Linked DNA regions of Homo sapiens. The protein of the gene in region 2 interacts with the protein of the main gene of each other region in a pairwise test. Each region holds a gene or a part of one and is shown on either strand. Other genes may lie near its edges.

Region 1 (3,822 bases), on a different chromosome or scaffold from region 2:
ACCAGGCCCGGCTAATTTTTTTGCATTTTTAGTAGAGACAGGGTTTCACTGTGTTAGCCAGGATGGTCTCGATCTCCTGACCTCATGATCCACCCACCTCGGCCTCCCAAAGTGCTGGGATTACAGGCATGAGCCACCGCGCCCAGCCTAATTTTGAATTTTCAAAGATAATCTATGATTAACAAGAAAGCCTGAAAATAAAGAAATAAATTCGTGGTCAGGCACAGTGGCTCACACCTGTAATCCCAGCACTTTGGGAGGCTGAGGCAGGCAGATCACTTGAGGTCAGGAGTTCGAGACCAGCCTGGCCAACACTGTGAAACCCCATCTATACTAAAACTAAAAAAATTAGGAGGGCGTGGTGGTGTGAGCCTGTAGTCCCCGCTACTCGGGAGGCTGAGGCAGGAGAATCGCTTGAACCCGTGAGGCGGAGGTTGCAATGAGACGAGATCGCGCCACTGCACTCCAGCCTGGGTAACAGAGCAAGACTCTGCCACCAAAAAAAATAAATAAATAATTAAATTCCCATGTCCTAGAATAGTGCATGGCATATAGTTGTTGAATGAAGAAATGAATGAACAAACGAACAAATAAATACCAACTCACCTGGGGTGTAAAAATGAATGTGTCTGAGAAACATGGTCACCTTCCTGCTTTATAACAGGATACCATGACTGTAATTCCATTCCTGATGGTGCATCTGTCTGCAGAAAAACATGGAAGGGAAACATTTATTGAAGTAAAACTGTGAAGGTTAATTTTATGTGTCAACCTGACTGGGCCACTGGGTAAAGACAACTAACATTATTTAAGAGTCATCATGCCACGCACAGTGGTTCACACCTGTATTCCCAGCACTTTGGGAGGCAGAGTGGGGAAGATTCCTTAAGCCGTGGAGTCAGCCTGGGCAACATAGGAAGACCCAGTCTCTTTAAAAAAAAAAAAAAAAAAATTAGCCAGTTGCAGTGGTGTACATCTGTGGTCCCAGCTACTTGGGAGACTGAGGTGGGAGAATCCCTTGAGCCCAGGAAGTTGAGGCTTGCAGTGAACCATGATTGAACCATGATTGCACCACTGCACTCTATCCTGGGCAAGAGTGAGACCCTGTCTCAAGAGTCATCTTCCAATAAGGCAGTCTTCCCTTGAAGAAGCCTGATTATCACCTGAAACTCAGAGACACCCACATGAACTATCCCATCACAAGAACAGTTTCAGTATGCATGCTAACATGGAGTACCAGAAATGACTGCATCAAATTTCATACTTACGAAATCTATTTTATTTATTTATTTTTTTTTTTTTTTTGAGATGGAGTCTCGCTCTGTCACCCAGGCTGGAGTGCAGTGGCGCGATCTTGGCTCACTGCAACCTCCACCTCCCGGGTTCAAGCGATTCTCTGCTTCAGTATCCTGAGTAGCTGGGATTACAGGCACCCACCACCACACCCAGCTAATTTTTTGTATTCTTAGTAGAGATTGGGTTTTGCCATGTTGGCCAGGCTGATCTCAAACTCCTGACCTCAGGTGATCCCTGCTCCTCAGCCTCCCAAAGTGCAGGGATTACAGGCATGAGCCACTGAGCCTGGCCAGAAATCCATTTTAAATAATAGAACTCTATAAAGGTATAGCACTGGAAAATTGATTCTTATTCCTGTACTACAATCGGCTAGACTATACCCTATCCCTACAGTATTTGTTAGCATATTAGCTAGATACCATTCTACAGCAATACTTTGCCAAATTAAATCCAAAACCACATAGTTTGCTAACACTTGTCATTAAACTATATTTCCTAATAAATATAAAAAGGATTTTTTAATACTTAAAGATGAGCTATAACTAAAAATAAAGAAAAATAAGGAGAAAGGTAACTGGTAACTTAATGAACATCTACGGGCTGAGAACTTTATACATCATTCTTAATTCTAACAAATATCCCCCATTAAATAGGTATCATTACCATTTTACAGATGAGAAAACAACTGACGTTCAGAAATTGAAGAGGGGCTCGGTTCAGTGGCTCACACCTGTAATTCCAGCACTGTGGGAGGCCGAGGTGGGTGGATCACCTGAGGTCAGGAGTTCGAGACCAGCATGGCCAACGTGGCAAAACCCCATCTCTATTAAAAACGCAAAACTTAACGAGGCATGGTGGTGCGCTCCTGTAATCCCAGCTACTCGGGAGGCTGAGACAGGAGAATCACTTGAACCCAGGAGATGGAGGGTGCAGTGAGCCAAGATCATGCCACTGCACTCCAGCCTGGGCAACAGAGCAAGAATCGTCTCAAAAAACAAAACAAAACAAAAAAAGAAATTGAAGAGAAAAAAAGAATAAATGATCTGTGGTTACTAACTTCTCCCTTATTTTGGTTTACTTTATTTACACTTTGTCCTCCCTTCATCCCCTACATATTTCCTATTATACGAAATTACCTTGCTTTTGTGGGAAAAGGATACTTAAAAGGGGGGGCAAGACTCACTGGTAAGGGAAAGGGGAAAGAAGGAAAGGAGAGCTGAAATGTGGCATGGTTAAGGTGACCAACAAAAATAGGAAGTTAACAGACAAACCCAGGAAACTGAGGGAGAATGCGATTAGGAACGAGTTAAACAAGGGAAAAAACAAAAAAGAGAGCTGGATATTTCTCTAAACCCTACCTTTAAGAGGTTCCATGGCCAGGCGCAGTGGCTCATGCCTGTAATCCTAGCATTTTGGGAGGCCGAGAAGGGTGGATCACCTGAGGTCAGGAGCAAGACCAGCCTGGCCAACATAGCGAAACCCAGTCTCTACTAAAAATACAAAAATTAGCTGGGCGTGGTGGTACGAGAAGGGTGGATCACCTGAGGTCAGGAGCAAGACCAGCCTGGCCAACACAGCGAAACCCAGTCTCTACTAAAAATACAAAAATTAGCTGGGCATGGTGGTACGCACTTGTAATCCCAGCTACTCGGGAGGCTGAGGCAGGAGACTCACTTGAACCCAGGAGGCGGAGGCTGCAGTAAGCCGAGATTGCACCACCGCACTCCAGCCTGGGCAACTGAGCCAGAATCCATCTCAAGATAAAAAAAATAAATAAATAAATAAATAAATAAATAAATAAAAGAAGCTCCAATTCTGGTCGGGTGCAGCAGCTCATGCCTGTAACTTTGGGAGGCTGAGGGAGGTGGATCACCTGAAGTCAGGAGTTTGAGACCAGCCTGGCCAACATGGAGAAACGCCGTTTCTACAAAAATTAGCTGGACATGGTGGTGAGTGCCTGTAATCCCACCTACTTGGGTGGCCGAGGCAGGAGAATCACTTGAATCCGGGAGGCAGAGGTTGCAGTGAGCTGAGTTCGCGCCACTGCACTCCAACCTGGGTGACAGAGCAAGACTTTGTCTCCAAAAAAAAAAAAAAAGAGAGAGAGAGAGAGTCCAATTCCCAATTCAACAAATTAGGAAAGTAGCAAAGCTGTTTTGCCTGATGTCCCAATATTCCAGTTTGGAACCAAGAAACTAAGGACTGCAAACAGATCTCTGGATGTTAAGCAGTAGTGATTAAAACAAAATCAACTCTAAACTATCCAAACTCTGGTTTGATTACTGAGATCCTACTAATGGAGGAAATCAATGAGAATGAAGAAACCTGGGAGAGATCTGACAAGTAACCCACTGCCCTCAACAAAACAGGCTGAAAACAGAAAGGAAACCGCTCTTAGAATATGTATCTTAAAATCTGATCAGTCAGGAGATGACTTAGGGCCAACTAAAGGACAAAAATAGGCAGGGCACAGTGGCTCACGCCTGTAATCCCAGCACTTTGGGAGGCCAAGGCAGGCAAATCACG
Region 2 (3,822 bases):
AAGGGACAGGGGTGTGTAGGAAGACAGTTCTAATTAGGATGGAGGAATTATACTAGGAAGTAGCGGTAAAGGAAGTGAGAAGGCTTAGTAAATAGAAGAAATGTGAACTTATCAAAGTGGCTAGAGTAGACCCCTGGAGATTCTTGATTAAGTGAATTAACTAGATTTTAGAAAGGTAATGAGGCAGTCATATGCAAGGAAGATTTCAAAGTCTGGAGACAAGAAGTCAAGCAATACTTTGAGAAGTGGTTGAGCTTTATGGGAATGGAGAGAATTACACTATTGAGAGATGTTAAAAATAATGAAGAGGGTTTCACCATGTGAAATTGTGTTTTTCATTTGAATCTGAGAAACAAATGAGCAGAGAGAGAGGCTGGAGATAATTATGTCTAAAAGACAGTGGGGTACAGGGAGCATAAAGGCCAGGGAGAAAGGGAACTGCAGGAATTAGTGCTGAGAAGCAGGAGTTAGTGGAGGAAGGAGGAGATCCAGTCCCAGATACAGGCAAATAAGTCTTTTCCCTCTCCCAAGCATGGCAGTTAGCCCTGCAGGAACCAGGATAAGAGGAAAGGTCATCATACCTGCCAGTCTTCCTGAAATACAGAAATGACATCACGGCTGCTATAATGGATTAAGGCCAGGAAGATGTCCTGTTCCTGAAGGAGCTGTCATGGAAAAAAAAGAAAAGAAGGAATGAAGATGATGTTATTTTACATGGGGGAGCCTCAGGAACAAGCATGTAACATGAGGTACTCTATAATTGTTTCTTCAAGGACTACGTTATTTCTGTTGGAAAATTGATAGGAGATGATTATATTCTTGCAGTTTTTTTTTCCCTCTCACCCTGTTTCTCAGTTGGTGATCAGTCCTCTGTCAATTCTCTACTGTGCTCAGATATTTGGAAGGCTTTCAGATGTGAGAAAGGCTGATTGCTATTTTCTATGTCATTAGAACTTGCCACCTTTGCACCTTTTCATGGTTGCATCTTTTTCTCAGTGTCTCTGTTGTGGCAGTCATGAATGAGACCCTGCCAGGTCTCCATGGCAGAGACTTGATTGACAGAAGGCCCAGGTCAGTGCATTTCAAATTCACCACCTCCTTTGCACAGAAAGCTTCTTTCCTACAGGCTCCCAGCAAGGGCGTGAAAGCAAGTCTAGTTCTCTGAGGCTCTCTTTAACTCTAATGGGTGACTGGTTGGAGGATTCCCCATCAGCCTTGCAAAAACTCTTATAATTGAATTGGTACCTAAAACTTCTTTCTCTTTCTTTTTCACAGGAATCAGCTCTGCATAGTGGTCTGTGGGTTCTCCCGTACTACCTTCATGCCTGCCCCACATTCCCTCACAGGTGTCTTCCCTGATAAGTTATCTTGTATGTCTAATCCCATCTTGGATGCATCTCAGTCAGTAAAAACTAACATACCAGGCTTGATTCTTTGCACTTAGCTTTTTTTCTTTCTCTCCCACAAGTAGTCAGTAACCATGTCCTAGTGTTTTATGTGTTACCTCTTTTTCCATATATATATATATGGAAAAAGGAAGGTACTGTTGAGGGGCACTTCCTATGTGCCAGGCCCTGTGCTAAATACTTTCCCTGTATCTCATTTAATCCACACAATAACCCTGTGAGGTAGACATTATTTCCATTTTGCCGATGAAAAGACAGAAGCTTAGAGTGGTGTAAAACTTTCCTGGTGTCATATGGCTAGTGACAGGTGGATCTGAGATTTGATTCTAGGACTATTTGACCTCTAGGCTAATGATGATGGTAGTCATATAGCAGCTGACATTGGTTCCACTGTGTGTGGCATCTCGTTTTATTGACTGCATTAAACCTTTAAAAGAAAGGTATGAAGAAAGCACTCTTATTGCAGTTTTCAGGTGAGGTATCAGAGGTTCAGAGAAATTGAGTCTTGTGCAAGAAATTTATAACTGTAAACTCTTACATTAAAAAAGAAGAAAGATCTCAGGTCAACAACCTACTTTAATACTTCAGGATATGAAAGAAGAACAAACTAAACCCAAGCACAGTGAATGAGGGAAAAATAAGGATTAGAGTGGATATAAATAAAATGGAGAATGGAAAAAGAATAGAGGAAATTAATGAAACCAAAAGTTGATTCTTCAAAATAAAATCAACAAAATTGACAACCATTAACTAGATTGACTAAGAAAAAAAGAGAAAAGTTTAAAATTCCTAAAATCAGAAATGAAAATGGACTCTGAGCATGGTGGGTCATGTTTTAATCCTAGCACTTTGGGAAGTCACAGCAGAAGGATTTCTTGAGACCAGGTGTTTGGACCAGCATAGGTAACCTGGGGAGACCCTGTCTCTACAAAAAAATAAAAAAGCCAATTAGCTGCGCATGGTGACATGCACCTGTAGTCCTAGCATCTTGGGAGGCTGAAGAAGGAGAATTACTTGAGCCCAGGAGGTTGAGGCTGCAGTGAGCCATAATCACACCACTGTATTCCATCCTGGGCTGGCCTACAGAGTGAGAGCCTGTCTCTCTCTCTTCAACAACAACAACCAAAAAAAAAAAAAAAAAAAGAAAAAAGAAAAATGAAGCGATTACTACCAATTCTAATAAACTAATGATTATGAAAGTACTATAAATAATTGTATGCCAATAAATTGGATAACCTAGATGAAGTAGACAAACCCCTAGAAACACACAAAAATATGAATGGAACTATAATCAGTAATAAGATTGAATCAATAAAACATTTGATGAAATTCAATATTTTTTCATAATAAAAACTTTCTAAGAAGGGAAGGAAACCACCTCAACGTAAAGGCAATATGTGAAAAACCCAATGCTAACATCATACTCAACGGAGAAAGACTGAAAGCTTTCCCTGTATGAGCAGGAACAAGACAAGGGTGCCTGCTTTTGACACTTTTATTCAACATAGTATTGAAAGGTCTAGTCAGAAAAATTAGGCAAGAATTTAAAAAAAGACGTTAAAATTGGAAGGAAGGAGTAAAATTATTTCTGTTTACAGATAACTTGAACTTATATGTAGAAAATCCTAAAGATGGAACAAACCTATTAGAATTAATAAATAAATTCAGTAATGTTGCACAATACAAAATCAACATTCAAACATCAGTTGTATTTCAATACACTAACCATGAACAATCTGAAGGGAAATTAAGAAAAAAAATTTCAATTTATATTAACATCAAAAAGAATAAAATATTTAGGAATGAGTTTAACCAAAGAGGTAAAATGATTATACCTGAAATCTACAAAATATGGCTGAAAGAAATGAAAGATGACATCAATAAATTGAAAGACATTTTGTTTTCATGAATTGGAAGACTCAATATTGTTAGGAGGACAGTGCTACCTGACGTGAGCTGCAGATTCAATAAAATTCCTATCAGAATCTCAGTGACATTTTTGCAGTAAAAAAAAATCTGTCCTAAAATTTATATTGCATCTCATGACTCTAAATAGACACACAGCTTTGAAGAGGAAGAATGAAGCTGGAGGACTCACACTTCCTGATTTCAGCATTTACTACAAAGCCCCAGTAATCAATACACTGTGGTACTGGCATAAAGGAGGACATAGAAATTAATGAAATATAATAACCCAGAAAGAAATGCTTGCATATATGGCCAAATGATTTTCATCGAGTGTGCCAAGATCGTTCAATGGGGAAGGGACCGTTTTCTCACCAAATGATATTGGGAAAGGTGGATATCCAAGGGCAAGAACAGTGGAACCTTTACCTAACACCATGTACAAAAAGTAACCCACAATAGATCAAAGATCTAAATGTAAGGGCAAAAACTATTCAACTCTTAGAAGAAA

What was found.
Region 1: the proteins of PSG3 (region 2) and SKIL interact in a two-hybrid assay, tested with the Homo sapiens proteins (one large-scale study listed by BioGRID and IntAct).

The regions. Positions count from the first base shown.
Region 1 is NC_000003.12:170,378,126-170,381,947, reverse strand, and holds part of SKIL (ski-like protein), read right to left. Parts: intron 705-3,822; coding exon 607-704; intron 1-606. UniProt on the Homo sapiens protein: May have regulatory role in cell division or differentiation in response to extracellular signals.
Region 2 is NC_000019.10:42,723,361-42,727,182, forward strand, and holds part of PSG3 (pregnancy-specific beta-1-glycoprotein 3 precursor), read right to left. Parts: intron 666-3,822; coding exon 622-665; 3' UTR 582-621; intron 1-581.